Homo sapiens: one gene and its partners. The protein of the gene in region 1 purifies or fractionates together with the protein of each later gene. This does not show direct contact. Each region holds a gene or a part of one and is shown in the gene's direction. Other genes may lie near its edges.

Region 1 (4,209 bases):
ATATATCACAATTATGATCTTAGATTTAGTTCTGGCCATTTTATTACAAGATAAATAGTTCTTTTCGTACCAATGGCTGTTTTTCCCTTTATCAAGTGAATATATTTCTTTTTTTTTTTCAAGCTCAAAAATCTCGGATTATAAAGTCGGATGCCTATGTCTGTCCCCTCTACAAGACAAGTGAACGTAAAGGAACTCTTTCCACTACGGGACATTCTACTAACTTTGTCATTGCAATGTTGTTAAAAACAGACCAACCTACTCGGCACTGGATCAAGCGCGGGGTTGCTTTGCTTTGTCAGTTGGATGACTAAATTGGACAAATTTATAAAACATCCAAAAGTTTAAAAAAAAAAAAACCTGTCCTACTTAAAATATATACATTATAAAACCAAGTGTTTTGGTGTTATTCTTTTAAATGATCTTTGCAAACACTCATTGCATTGTTCTCCTTTCTGAGGAGAACTTTTTGAAGTTTGATTGTATGTGAAAAATAGATTTGGGGGTTAAACGGTAACATTTAACAAATATCAGGAATTATCTCCTTCACAAATGTTAAGTCATTCCTTCAGCTTCAGTATAGTTTACTTTCCACTCTCCTACCTAAAGTAATTATACATAAATATTTCAAATACATAAATTAAGAAATTATAAATATGGAAAATATTAAAAGTTACCCAACTATACCTCTTTATTTCTTACCTCTAAGACATCGGTTCCATTTCTCACTGCATCCTTGTGACTAGGAAAGGAAACTCAAAGCTGCGAAGTTGGCCTGCAAAGGCAGTAGGATGGCTTGAGGGCAGTCCGAACTTCTACACCTGCAGTGACAGTGTGCTTCTCGGCATTTGCTTCATATTTAATTTGAAATGTCAAGTGGTCCCTTTGCTTTTTTTAGTGTATATTAACAATTTAAAAATATTTCAACAAAACAGAATTTTGATCAAAATTTTATCTTGTGTAGAGTGAATTCTTCCCTTAGGATTCCAAGGACACTGAAGGCCACAGTTCTGTAACCCAAGGAAAATGTAGTCACAGCTACCTAGTGAATCTAGTACATTGGGACAGTCACTTTGGATAATTGGGTCAGAGCAAAATGTTTGGGTTCTCTTAAGTGAAAAATTGATTGTGGTTTGCAGTGGCTATGTGCATGAATTCTCTTTGCATGGCCAACCCCCTGCAAAAGCATTTTATTCCAGGAATAAAATATTTAATCCTTTAAATTTGATGAATGTAGCACTGAAGAAAAGAGATCATGTTTCCAAAAAGAGCTAAACCACATGTAAAAAACAAGGAGAATGTGCCAAACTGTCTTATGATGAAGTATTTATAGTAAAGCTATTAATGGAATGGTCACTACAGGGGAGAGGAGAGCCTAAATATAAATGAAAATTCTGAGGCTTACATGTGTTAGTCCTTAACAGTGAAAACTTCACTGCTGTCCTAGAGGATAAAACAAAAGGTAAAAAGTCTTTGAAATGTGACCAAATGTATTCTATGCTAAAACTGACATTTTTCTTTTAAAACCATTTAGATATTGCCTAGTAAGATACATTTGTTTTTACTACTGCTGTATCCATGTTGTAATTATGAGAATACATTTGTTCCTATAACATGTTTATTTTTAATGTATATTAAGTAAAATATTATTTTCAGCATCACACTGTGTGTAGGAAAGATATTATTTTGGATGAGTGCTACAATCACTGTGAAAGACTCACAGCCAAGTTGAACAGATCAGAGTGTTGTCAGTGTTAGAGTGGCACTAACCGAAGTCTTATTTGAAAGGTGGTTTTTCCTGAATAAGCTTTAAGTCAATGGCTACTCATGGAAACTTCTAATTTTTGTTGAATCTGTGGCAGTCCACAAAACTTTTTTAAGTTTATAGAAATTTTTTAGTGAATATTTTGTTTCCTAAATTTTGTATATTTTTCATTGTTAATCCTACCAATTTTCTAGATTTCTGAATTTCATTTGTAATTTTAAGCAGTTGATCTCTTCACAACTGGAAAAATACTTTTAATTCACTCTGACTTTAAAGTAAACCTGTCCACGTTTCACATGGATAATTACACCAGCGATGAAGACATAGATGAAGACTTTGACACCCAGCTCATCATTCAACAGAGTTTGCAGGATATTTATAAGCCAGGAACAGCACAACATGCACCTAAGGATGAGAGGTAATGGTTTTCTCATCGGCAATATAGTATTAAGTGTTGTATTCAACAGCTGACACTTGTCATTAGCTTAACTCTAGTGTTGTGACAAAAACAGGAGGGTCAGAATCCAAGGAGCTGTCAATTAAATATCTGTAAGATATTATGCCTAACTAGACAGGAATAATCTGGAAATAATTCAGAATTTAATTAGGCAATAAAAATATCTGAAGGAGGTTAGCAGCAAATCTGGGTGAGGTGATACAGACTGGAAATCAGAAGAAAGAAAGGAGGATATGAAGGGCTAGAGAAAAACTAATACATCTTGTCTTTGGGAATTGAAGAAATGCATAAATCCAACCGGGACACATAGAAAGTTAGTTATCTTCAACCTTAGTAGGGTAGGTGGGGATGGGGTCCAGTCTTTGATCTACTCAAATCAAAAGGAGGAATTACATAAACTTGAACAAGGCTTCTGAAAGTGTAGATTCAGAGTTTTGTTGGACAACACTGAAAAAGGACCAGTGGGACCCTGTGTGGGGTGTAAGAAGAATCGTCCTGGATATGGCACACCTGCTCACACGCTCGCTGGCCAATCAGCAACCTTGGTCTCCTGAGGCAGTAACCATCATTTTTTCAGGGGTGATAACCCAGTTTACTTGGGATGGTAATCTCTATTTGCCTGCTGGATGTAAAACTAGAAAAATGTCTTTTAACCCCAAGAGATTTCATAACTAAATAGAGACAATGAAGTACATCAAACCTATATAGTATTTTTAAAATGTAACAAACCATGGAGTGATCACTATGTGTCATGTTATTTTAAGCACTTCATAAATACTAACTTTTAAATTCTAATTCTCATTACCTCTCTATGAGGTAGGTCCTATTATTATCCCTACTTAGAGAGGAGGAAAGTGAGGCACAGAAAAGTTAAGTGGCTTACCCAAGGTCACAGAACTAGTAAGTGAAGAGCAAGGCAGTCTGATTCTAAAGTCTGTGCTCTTAGCCACACACTATTCCTATACTTTTGTGTTCAATTTAGGATTAGTTTTTAAAATAATCTTTAAATATTTAAAGTTTTGTAAAGAAATTAGCCTTATTAGATTATCTGTTATATTAACCTTATGATTAAAACCTTAAATTGCATAATTGAGTAACTGACTTTGAACTTACAATTTTAGGTTGAAAGGTATAAGAGAGTTGGGCTAAGGAGAGTATTGAAATGTTTCAGAGAAACTGAAATTGACTGTGGTTATGCATTTACTTGATTAGATTTGCAGGAAGTGTATGATACTTAGGCAGGCTTGCTGATTTAGTCAGGTACTTGAAGGAATTAGAAAACTAGAACATACTTGTGACATGTGGAGTAATGGTCCCATCCAAAGATGTCCTAATTTCTGGAACCTTACATGGCAAAGGAGAAGTAAGGCTACAGATGGAATTATGGCTGCTAATCAGCTGACTTTTAGATAGGGGGTGTACTCTGGATTACCCAGGTGGTCCCAGTGTAACACAGGATCTTTAAGTGTGAAAGAGGGGGAGCCAGGAGAGACAACTTGGGAGATGGCAGTGTTAAAAGGACTAAGCCCAACAATGCTGGCTTTGAAGATGGAGGCAGAGAGTCCACCAGCCAAGAAATGTGGGTGGCTTCTAGAAGCTAGAAAAGGCAGAGATAGAGTCTCCCCAAGAGCCTCCAGAAGGAACAGAGCCCTGCTGACATCTTGATTTCAGTCCGGTGAGGACTGTTTTGGATTTCTGAACTACTAAACTGTAAGATAATAAATTTGTTTTATTATTGTTGTTTTAAGCCACTAAGTGTGTGGTTACTTCTTACAGCAGCTATAGAAAACTAACACAATACTAAATCTATGAATGCAGGTTTAAATGTTTAAGATAATGTAATTGACCAAATTGTAAACAGGACAGAGTGTCCGAGGGAATTTATTCTCCTCAACCTGGGTTCGTTAAATAATTAGAGTGGAAGGTGGCCGGGTGTGGTGGCTCATGCCTGTAATCCCCGCACTTTGGGAGGCCGAGGCGAGCAGAT
Region 2 (3,500 bases), on another chromosome or scaffold:
CAGGATGATCTCTTTTTGATGCTTTTTTCTTACAGTTACAGATTTATGGTAATGGAAAGACTAGGAATAGATTTACAGAAGATCTCAGGCCAGAATGGTACCTTTAAAAAGTCAACTGTCCTGCAATTAGGTATCCGAATGGTAAGAATTACTTATTTCGCATGCTCCATTTCCAAATTGTTTACTTCTTGCAATATAGAAATCTTTTCCCTTTGTGGAATTATTAGAGAATGAAGGATTATTGCCCTAGAGACATCAGTTATTAGGAGTAGAGGCTATTTTGGTGAAATTGATAACAATGGGCTCTGTAAGTGACAGAATGTGCTGTGTATGGCACTGCAAACTCAATTAGGCTTTGGTTCTCCAGTCTGATCTTCTTTTTCCTTAGAGCTTTGTTTTACATACCAGAACAAGCTTTCATTGCTGTAAGAATAACCTTTCTTTTGTCAGTTATAACAATGCAAATTATGGCAAAATATATTGTCAGACATTTTAAACATGTGATGGTAGGGGGGTGCTATGAAGTTTTTATTATGAGTTTGGGATGGTGGCAATAATTAGTTGTGACAATGAATAAAATATACTTTGCCAAAGCAGAAGCAACGAACTCTTAATAGCACTCAGGCACACATTTGTTTATACTACATATTTGTCTTATATGTTTGTATTTGGTTTGTTTAAGTCTCATTTTTTCACTTTTGAGTAGCATGAAGCTGCTTATGCCAGATTGGAATGCAGCAAATAGAATGCATTAATTTTCTCATTTATCCATCCTCGAAGCCAGCAAATGTTTATTGAGTACTAAGTGTATGTAACATGCAAGGCTGAAGGGCTTTAGAGATGAAGCTAAGGAGTTTTCTATTACCATACAGAGGAAGAATACCTTTCCCTTTGCTCATGGACATGGCATTTTGTTCTGAGATTCTCAAGGCTTGATTTATAATTATTGCTTAGGTGAGGAATTGCTGAGTGGGCTTCAAGATTATTTCACCATAGATCTCTGATTTTATGCTATGTTTTTCCTCTTTGTGCAGTGCGGTTTGGCTACTGGGCTATCAGGAATTAGGCATAAGCATTTTTGAATCTTGATTTTCTTCCTTTGGAACTTCAACTAAAATACTTGATTTTTGAGGATCATTTTACTTTTTTCTAGGATGAGCAACCAGAAGATGTGATATTTTAGAATAATTAACCAGTAATTGTGAAATACATCGCTTTGTCAATGTTAATATGAAAAAACCCATGTTATTCTATATTCAAAATGTTGAAATTGATCATGAGTTCTAAATAGCAGTAAACCTTATTTTATCTATTTATTTTCACAGTTGGATGTACTGGAATATATACATGAAAATGAATATGTTCATGGTGATATAAAAGCAGCAAATCTACTTTTGGGTTACAAAAATCCAGACCAGGTAAATACATACTTTTGCTTTTAATAAAGGTCTTTAATGTATGAAACTGAAACATTCAGAAAACAAACTTCTAACCCAGAAGAGTTTACAAATGAGGGCGTAACATGATGAATGTTGTAATTTATCTTACCTGCTTATCTAATTTAATCTTTGTACCAAACTAATGAGTAATTAGGATGAGAAACTGAGAGTCAGAGGGGTTAAATAATATGTTAATGGGCACACAGTTAAGAAGTGGCTGAGCAGGAATTTGAATTTCTGAGCAAATATAGATAAGCAAAGAACCATCAAAATCCAGTGGGAGTAGAGATGGATTTATGTAGAGGTTAAAACACTGTCATATTAGTTCATCATTTCCTACTGTATAACCAATTAAGTTTTAAGCAGAGAGGCCGGGCGCGGTGGCTCATGCCTGTAATCCCAGCACTTTGAGAGGCCGAGGTGAGTGGATCACCTGAGGACAGGAGTTTGAGACCAGCCTGGCCAACATGGTGAAACCCTGTCTCTACTAAAAATACAAAAATTAGCTGGGTGTGGTGGTGGGTGCCTGTAATCCCAGCTACTCAGGAGGCTGAGGCAGGAGAATTGCTTGAACCCAGGAGGCGGATGTTGCAGTGAGCTGAGATGGTGCCATTGCACTCCATCCAGCCTGGGCAACAAGAGAGAAACTCCATCTCAAAAAAAAAAAAAAAAAAAAAGTTTTAAGCAAGCTTTTCCATTAAAATTTTGTGTAATGATGAAAATATTCTGTTTGACTGTCCAATATGGTAGCCATTAGCAGTATGTGGCTAAGTACTTAAAACGTGGTCAGTACAGTACCAACTGCTGATGAGTATTTGGAGTAACAGGAACTCTCATTTGTTGCTCATGGAAATTTGTTGCTAATGGAAATGCAAAATGATACAGCCACTTTGGAAGACAGTTGGGCAGTTACTTAGAAAGCTAGACACTCTTAACATACCAAGCAGCAGTTGTGCTCATTAGTATTTACCCAAATGAGTTGAAAACTTACATCCACACAAAAACCTGCACGTGAATGCTTGTAGTCGGTTTATTCATACTCGTCAAAACATTGAAGTAACCAAGATGTCTTTGAGTAGGTGAATGGATAAACTGATACATCCAGATAATGGAATATTATTCATTGCTAAATAGAAATGAACTTTTCAGCCATGAAAAAACATGGAAGAAACCTAAATGTATTTTACTATGTAAAAGAAGCCAATCTGAAAAGGCTAGTTACTATACAATTTCAACTATATGACATTCTGGAAAAGGCAAAACTATAGAGACAGTAAAAAGATCAATTTTTTACTATCTCCATAGGTTAGAAGGGAGAGGAAGGATGAATGAGTGAAGCACAGTGGATTTTTAGGTCAGTGAAACTATTCTGCATGATACCATAATGGTGAATACATGTCATCATTTGGTTGTTAAGATCCATAGAATGGACAAGACCAAGAGTGAACATAATGTAAACTGTGGCTTTTGGATGATAAGGATTGTCATTCTTGGTTCATTCACTATAAAAAATGTGCTACTCTAGTGAGGGATGTTGATAGCGGAGAGACTTTGTGTGGGCTTGAGGTATATGGGAACTCACTGTATTTTCCACTCAGTTTTACCTACATTGCTCTAAATTTACCTAAATCAAACCTAAAACTTCTCTAAAAAATATAGTCTGTTTAAAAAATGTAGATTATATTTTTAATATTAAAATATTAATATTGACAAACTGAATTTTTAATTTAACTTAATTTAAACTTAAATAACAATATACCTAGTTGTTACTGTATTATCACGTTTAAAGAGTTAAATGATTGAGTCTATAAAAAATTAGAAAAAATGTAATTGAATATTTGATCTCTGCATTGGTTAAATTTCTTAATAAAAATTTTTTCAAAATGAAAGGTGAATGAGAAACTGGGAAATAGATAGATAACAAATATTTGAGAATATCTAGCCGGTACTAAAAAAAAAATTAAGAAAAACACTAAATACCTTGTTAAAGCGATGATCGAAAAGAATGAATAAACAGAACAGAGAAGGAATATGACTGTCCTAGAAACAGGAAAAAAGGCT
Region 3 (3,500 bases), on another chromosome or scaffold:
GGTGAGCCCTGCTCTCACCAAATGCCCCTGATTGGCCAGGTCCCAGTTCCAGTAACCTGAAGGATCCTGGAGAGATGAGAACTGCTCTGGGATGAGTGGCACCATACTTCTCTCCAGGGAAGATTCTGCTGCCTGCTGGCTGCTATGGGATGCTGGCTGGCAGAACTGGGTCCTCCCAGTTGCCAGGGCCACAGCCCCAGAAGCTGTTTCTTAGACAGGCATTCTGAATTACTTAATTCCCATTATGTGTTTATACCAGAACCAAGGATTCACTGAATCGGCAGCCTTTCTTCTCCTGAATATACTCGGGAGACTTTGGCATGGTCACACTTCCCTCCTGTTCAGTCCCTACTGTCCATAGAAAGTCAAGAAAACATTTATTTTCTTTTGCTACCACCCTCCCTTTGCCTGTGAGGATGTAATCCAGGTTTGGCCAGTTACCTGAACCTAGAGAGAAGCAACTTGAGATGCAAGCTCCTGCCTGTGGGACTGAGGAGCAGCCCAAGAACTGGGGTCCCACGGGTCTCCGCAGCAGAGAGAGGAAGGCACTAGCCGACAGGGGCCTGCTCCACACTGAACTATCCCTGCCCTGGGAATGGCATATGTGGAAGCTTTCCCTTTCTCTCTACCAAAGGGTAGAGAAGAAGCAAACAGAAGCAATCTCCTTGCCTCTTGTCTTTTCATGCCTTCAGCAGCATTTCTTAAGGGCTTGGTTTTCCCATCTGTGTCACGGAAACAGAAGTGTTGCTTCTGAACCTGTGACCTCACTCAGTTTCTGAGTCTTCCCACGAGTAGATCTCCCTACCCACCCAGCCCTGCCTGCACCCACACTGGAAATGGAGGTCATTTTTCAGTTTTCCATTGCCTCCTTAATGTTCTCATCAAACGGTAAAAGCCTGGGTGAGATCCCCAGGTATGTCAAGTCTCTGGCAGCAGCGCTTTGGCCTTGCCCTCAGTGTCTCTCACATACAGATCCCTAGTCCTGCCTTTGGCCTAGTGCCATGGCAGGAGCCCAGTCAGATGCAAGAACATGCCCAGGCTCCAGTAAGCAGCTCGGATGTCCTGGAGCCCTGAGACGGGCAGGGATGGTGTCTCCCAAGAACTGTTCATGGATTGTGGAAACAGCTCCTACTCACTGCTCATAGCACAGGTTTCAGACTCACATAGGTTACTGGTTGGATCAGTACCATAGGCACCTGGGCATGTTACAGGTGGATCCCATCTTAGGAGGCTTCTCTCTGAGCTGCTGTGCCCAAGCTGAGAGAGCTAATGGGCTCAGTGAAGTCACCCAGGAGAAAGTATTACAGAGCTCCACATCGGCTGTCTGCAGCTTCAAACGAGATATAAAATAGATATCCTGGGGGAGGGAGAAAGGCTCCAAATTCAAATACATGACGGACTTTTATTAAAGTTAAGCTAGTTTCTTCATCGCAGGATTTCTGTCTTTACTGTGGTCATGTATTTTAGGACCCTCCAAAAGGGAGATGGAACAGGAAAGACAGCCCCCACCCTCTTCTCCACCCACAATTACCCAGACATAGACACAAAATCAAATACTGGGACTGGAAAGGAGACCCCTAAGGTCCAGTAGTCCCAGCTCTATCATTTTATAAAAAGGGTGAGGCTAAGAGAGAAGGAAATTTGCCCGAGGTCACACTGCTAATAAGTGACGTGGCTGAGATTAGATGGGCATTCTATTATTCCCCAAGACCATCCACCCGAGCATGTATTCTCTCAGTCCCCCTGGTAAAACCTATGAAGCATTTTGGGGGAGCCTTCACTCTCCTGACACTAAAATGGGTTTCCATGTTGACAGTCCTGGGCACTGAGGCAGGAGAGCAGCTGGCTGTGAGCACAGCCCCCAGATCCTAAATGAGAGTCAGAGACAAATGTGGACTATGAAGGGCTTTTTTCCTGAAGTTTCAAGTAGCCTTTGGAAGAAGCTGGGGATGTGCTGCCTTAACCTGTGTGAGGCAGTTCAGGCTGTCTATCACACTGGACTTTGCCTTGCTACAGGCTGGAGAAGTCAAGCCAAGTCCGCACAGTGTCCAGCAGCAATTTATTCTTTAAAGGGAGCCGGTTCCGATACAGGTAAATAGTGACAGTAAGTAACCATTATGGATCTATTTTCAGACCCTTCTCTGGAGAACTCAGTGGTCCTTATCCTTTAGAACAGAGAAACCAGGGAGGACTCAGAAAAGTCTGAGGTCTCCATCTAATTCTCCCATCTTATGACCCTTTTACTATTTCCTTCCTTCCCTACAGCAATTTGTCTGTAGGGTTTTAAATGTATATTGGCCGGCCATAGTGGCTCATGCCTATAATCCCAGCACTCTGGGAGGCTGAGGCAGGTGGATCACTTGAGGCCAGGAGTTTGAAATCAGCCTGGGCAACATGATGAAACCCCATCTCTACTAAAAATACAAAAAAAATTATCTGGGTGTGGTGGCACACACCTGTAGTCCCAGCTACTTGGGAGGCTGAGGTGGGAGAATTGCTTAAGCTCAGGAGGTCGAGGCTGCAGTGAGCCATGATTGCACCACTGCACTCCAGCCCAGGAGACAGAGCAAGACCCTGTCTCCAAGAAAATGAAAAATAAATATGTATCTTCTCTTTCCCTTACAATAGCAAAATAAGAACTATAACAGTGATTCATGTCTCACTGTCTAAAGGTTGTTCTTATGTGTTTTTTTGTGATGTAATTGGAACATGCTGGAAAATGAGGAATTACTCCTAAATGAGAATGGAAGATCCTAAAGACTCTAGAGATGGAGAGAGTTCTCTCAGATAGGCTGTCATGACAGTTTAGAAGTCTACCCCACCAAGCAAGCCTTTCTCCATGACCAAAACATCAGGGAAAGGGTGGGCCACAGATGCCATTTCCTGATTCAGGGAAAGCACCTAAGATCTTGGAGAGGAGCTGTCCTACAACACAGTCTCATTTCTTGCTGCTTGTTTTTATTACACTACTTACAGTGGCCGAGTTGCAAAGGAAGTCATGGAATCAAGTGCTAAGATCAAACGGGAGCCACCGGAAATACACAGGTAGGCTGCCAGGGGCTTCCCCCCAAACAGTTGTAGCTCAGATCCCAGAATCTCAATCCAGCAGTTTGAGTACTGTGAAGCCCCTGGCTCCAGTGGCTACCAAAAAGTCCAAAATGGAGCAGAAGGCTGAAGAAACTTCTCAGAGGGATGGGGAGAAGTCTTTGACCCTTAATAAGAGAGCTGGGGAGGGAGGAAGGGCTACTGCAGATAGTACATCAGATCCAGGTGCCACTTCACTTGGCAATTCTCTTCTGCCCTCCCTAGTCTTGACACTGATCATAGATGTGTCACACAATTTCAGTGGTTCTGGAACCAGTCGATCATATGAAGCCAAGGATAGTCCCACAGCCCTGCCACACTGGCTCTAAAATAATTTCAGGATCCATGCTTCATGTAGATCCACAAATTGTGTTTCCAGAAGCCTATCTCCTAGAATCTAAGACCCAGAAAGAATA
Region 4 (3,500 bases), on another chromosome or scaffold:
TTGGATACCTAACAGCATCTCAGATGTCACGTATCCAAACAGAACTCGATCCCTCCCTGTGCCCCCAGAAACGAAGAACCTTCAGAACCTGCTCTGCCCGAAGTCTTTCCCATCTCTCTCTCTTTTTTTATTTTATTTTTATAGAGACAGGGTCTCACTTGGTTGCCCAGGTTGGTTTTGAACTCCTGGCTTCAAGTAGTTCTCCCGCTTCGGCCTCCTAAAGTGTTAGGATTACAGGTGTGAGCCACAGCGCCCAGCCTCCTTTCCTATCTCAGTAAATGAGAGCTCTGGCCTTCTACTTGCTCTGTCCAAAAACCTTGGAGTCAGCCTCGATCTCTTTCTCTCCCACACTCCAAATCATACATATCTCAAAATCATCTCCTGAACATGTACTCCAAAATTGTATCCCCAGTCTCGCCATTTCTCAACCTCACTGCGGCCAGCATCTTTGTCTTAGTTACACAGCACCCTCCCCACGGAACCTGTCTCCCTCCTTGTGTGTCTGCTTTCCGTAGGAGAGTCCTTTTTAAAATTGAAGGCAGTTCACGTCTGTCTTCTGCCTAAAACCTCAGAGGTTCCCTCAATTCCAGTCGGAGGCCAAAGCCCTTCAGAGACTTTGGAGCCTACAATGCCCTCCGTGATGTAGTACTCCTCTCTACCCCAACCCCAGCCATCCTGACCCCCTGGAGCTATTCCTGGCACACACCAGGCCCCCTCCTGCTTATGAGGTGGCCTTTGCTATTTCTCAGTCTGCAGATAAATACGTGGCCATTTCCTTCACTCCCTGTAAGTATCTGCTGTCTGCTCAAATGTCCCCTAATTCACCTTGTATAACATAGTAGCCCTTCCCCTTGCCCCAGGTGATCCCCCCCACCATGTTTGCCATGTTCAATCTCCAACGAGCCAGTCTCCATCTGAAGGGCCATCTCCTGCACTCCTCATCAGACATAAGCTCTTGGACTTGGTCCATTTTATTCTCACCCGCACTTCTAGAACCTAAAACCCATCGTGGTACTTGAGAGGAACTCAGTGAGTGAATCAAAGTGGATCACAGCTCAGTTTTGGAAACAAAGCCAAATCACTTACCTAGATTAGAGCTGGCGTCAGCCATCTCTCCTCAGATAATATTTGAAGGCTCAGTACAGTGGCGCGCACACTTTGGGAGGCCAAGACAGGAAGATCACTTGAGCCCAGGAGCTCAAGGTGGTAGTGAGCTGTGATTGTGCCCCTCAGCCTAGATGACAGAGTGAGACCCTGTCACTTCAAAAAAAAAAAAAAATTTTTGTCTTGAAGTCTACCTTATCTGTTACTATATAGCTTTTTTAGTCTTCTTATGCTTACTATTTATTTTTTTTACCCATTCACATTTAACCTGTCTCTGTTTGTGTGTGTGTGTGTGTGTGTGTGTGTATATATATATATATATTTTTTTTTTTTTTGGAGACGGAGTTTCGCTCTTGCACCCCAGACTGGAGTGCATTTGGCTCACTGCAACCTCCACCTCCCAGGTTCAAGCAATTCTCCTACCTCAGCCTCCTGAGTAGCTGGGATTACAGGCGCCCACCACCACACCCAGCTAATTTTTGTATTTTAAGTAGAGACAGGGTTTCACCATGTTGGCCAGGCTGGTCTCAAACTCCTGACCTCAAGCGATCCTCCTGCCTCAGCCTCCCAAAATGCTAGGATTACAGGCGTGAGCCACTGAGCCTGGCCAAGTTTTGAGTGTTCTTTATCAATTCTGGAATTGCTTTTATTCTGGAAGAGCTTTTATTCTGGAAGAGTGTGATCAGGTATTGTCAGTGGCTACTCAGCATGTTTTCTTTTTCTGGCTTTTCAGCAGTTTGTGATGTACATAGATAAGGCTGTTGTTGTATTTATGATGCTTGGGGTTTCCTAAACTTCTTGCATCTGTAAATTTCCTTTTCCTCACTGGGGCTCTAATTACCAATATATTAAACTTAACACTCTTCCACGGGTTTCTGAGATTCTGTCCATGCATCCTCAGTCCTTTTCCTCTTGTTGACCAGGCTGGAGTGCTGTGGTACAATCTGCCTCCTGGGTTGAAGCGTTCTCCCGCCTCACTCAGCCTCCCGAGTAGCTGGGACTACAGACAGGTACCACCACGCCCGGCTAATTTTTGTATTTTTGGTAGAGATGAAGTTTCACCATGTTGGCCAGGCTGGTCTCAAATTCCTGACCTCAGGTGATTCGCCCACCTCAGCCTCCCAAAGTACTGGGATTACAGGCGTGAGCCACCACGCCTGGCCAAATTTTTTATATGTGGTCCAGAGTTTACACATTGGTCCAATAGGAGCTACTTTACTCAGCCACCACTGGAAGCAGAACCTCCTTAACTGACTAACTTTTGAAGTCTTCACTAACTTCTTTGGAAACCTCAGTTAAGAACTGAGATGTGACTCTCCAGTGACATCTGGAGGAGCCCATTCCTGTCCTCTCCAGCCTATGACTGAATGCACCTGTAGGGGACGTTGACCCCGTGAAGTGTTCCTCTTGTTGCTTTGGCTTGAGGTCAGCAGACACTGGGATCTTTCTTCTGTCACAGTGTCAGATCCATCAGCCAGACTTTGGAACGGGAGGCCAGAAGGTGGTGGACTGTGAAAGGAGCAGACTGCAGGCTCCTTTAACTCGCAGCTGCACGCAGCACAAGTTCTCTTCCTGTGCCTGACACCCCATTGCCCTTCCCTGGAAAACCTGATTCATCTTGGCTTTTTTTTTTTTTTTTTTGTATTTTTCCCCAGGCTCAACAGGGCCAGTCAGACATACTTCTTCCCTATTCACTTGACGGACCAGCTTCTGCCCAGCGCCATGTTCTATGCCACCGTGGGGCCTCTAGTGGTCTACTTTGCCATGCACCGTCTGATCATCAAACCATACCTCAGGGCTCAGAAAGAGAAGTGAGTTGACACGTCATGGGCATGTCACTAGCCAGCCCTGTGCCTCAGTTTCCTCACCCTTAAAATGGAGAGGATAACAGAGCCTCCTGCGTCGGGTGATGAGGAAACCTGAATTAAGTAATGCATGTAAAGCACTTAGGCTGATGTCTGGGTCACGATTGGTAAATGTTAACTATTTCTCCTCATTGTCCGTAGTTGGACTGCTGTTATCTCTTCGTTTGTAAATCTTACTCTCAGAAAGGACTGGAGTTTATAGAAGTGTTGGGCCTCGGCTGGGCGTGGTGGCTCACGCCTGTATTCCCAGCACTTTGGAAGGCTGAGGCAGGTGGATTACCCGAGGTGAGGCGTTCAGGACCAGTCTGGCCAACATGGTGAAACCCTGTCTCTACTAAAAAAATAGAAAAATTAGCCGGGCGTGGTGGCACGTGCCTGTAATCCCAGCTACCTGGGAGGCTGAGACAGGAGAATTGCTTGAACCTGGGAGGTGGATGTTGCAGTGAGCCTAGATTGCGCCATTGCACTCCAGCCTGGGTGACAGAGCAAGACTCGGTCTCAAAAAAAAAAAAAAAAAAAGTGTTGATCCTC

Evidence for each region. The genes of interacting proteins can lie anywhere in the genome.
Region 2: the proteins of ASB14 (region 1) and VRK2 purify together in Homo sapiens (affinity purification with mass spectrometry; one large-scale study listed by BioGRID and IntAct). This does not show direct contact.
Region 3: the proteins of ASB14 (region 1) and FRMD5 purify together in Homo sapiens (affinity purification with mass spectrometry; one large-scale study listed by BioGRID and IntAct). This does not show direct contact.
Region 4: the proteins of ASB14 (region 1) and DNAJC11 purify together in Homo sapiens (affinity purification with mass spectrometry; one large-scale study listed by BioGRID and IntAct). This does not show direct contact.

What each region holds. Positions count from the first base shown.
Region 1 is NC_000003.12:57,289,886-57,294,094, reverse strand, and holds the start of ASB14 (ankyrin repeat and SOCS box protein 14), read left to right. Parts: upstream 1-1,409; 5' UTR 1,410-1,462; intron 1,463-1,987; exon of another isoform or gene 1,988-1,990; 5' UTR 1,991-2,061; coding exon 2,062-2,183; intron 2,184-4,209. Other genes in the region: DNAH12 (dynein axonemal heavy chain 12), read left to right, coding at 124-314. UniProt on the Homo sapiens protein: May be a substrate-recognition component of a SCF-like ECS (Elongin-Cullin-SOCS-box protein) E3 ubiquitin-protein ligase complex which mediates the ubiquitination and subsequent proteasomal degradation of target proteins.
Region 2 is NC_000002.12:58,088,306-58,091,805, forward strand, and holds part of VRK2 (serine/threonine-protein kinase VRK2), read left to right. Parts: intron 1-35; coding exon 36-141; intron 142-1,325; coding exon 1,326-1,418; intron 1,419-3,500. UniProt on the Homo sapiens protein: Serine/threonine kinase that regulates several signal transduction pathways.
Region 3 is NC_000015.10:43,884,272-43,887,771, reverse strand, and holds part of FRMD5 (FERM domain-containing protein 5), read left to right. Parts: intron 1-2,016; coding exon 2,017-2,091; exon of another isoform or gene 2,092-2,104; intron 2,105-2,976; coding exon 2,977-3,045; intron 3,046-3,500. UniProt on the Homo sapiens protein: May be involved in regulation of cell migration. May regulate cell-matrix interactions via its interaction with ITGB5 and modifying ITGB5 cytoplasmic tail interactions such as with FERMT2 and TLN1.
Region 4 is NC_000001.11:6,639,317-6,642,816, reverse strand, and holds part of DNAJC11 (dnaJ homolog subfamily C member 11), read left to right. Parts: intron 1-2,759; coding exon 2,760-2,915; intron 2,916-3,500.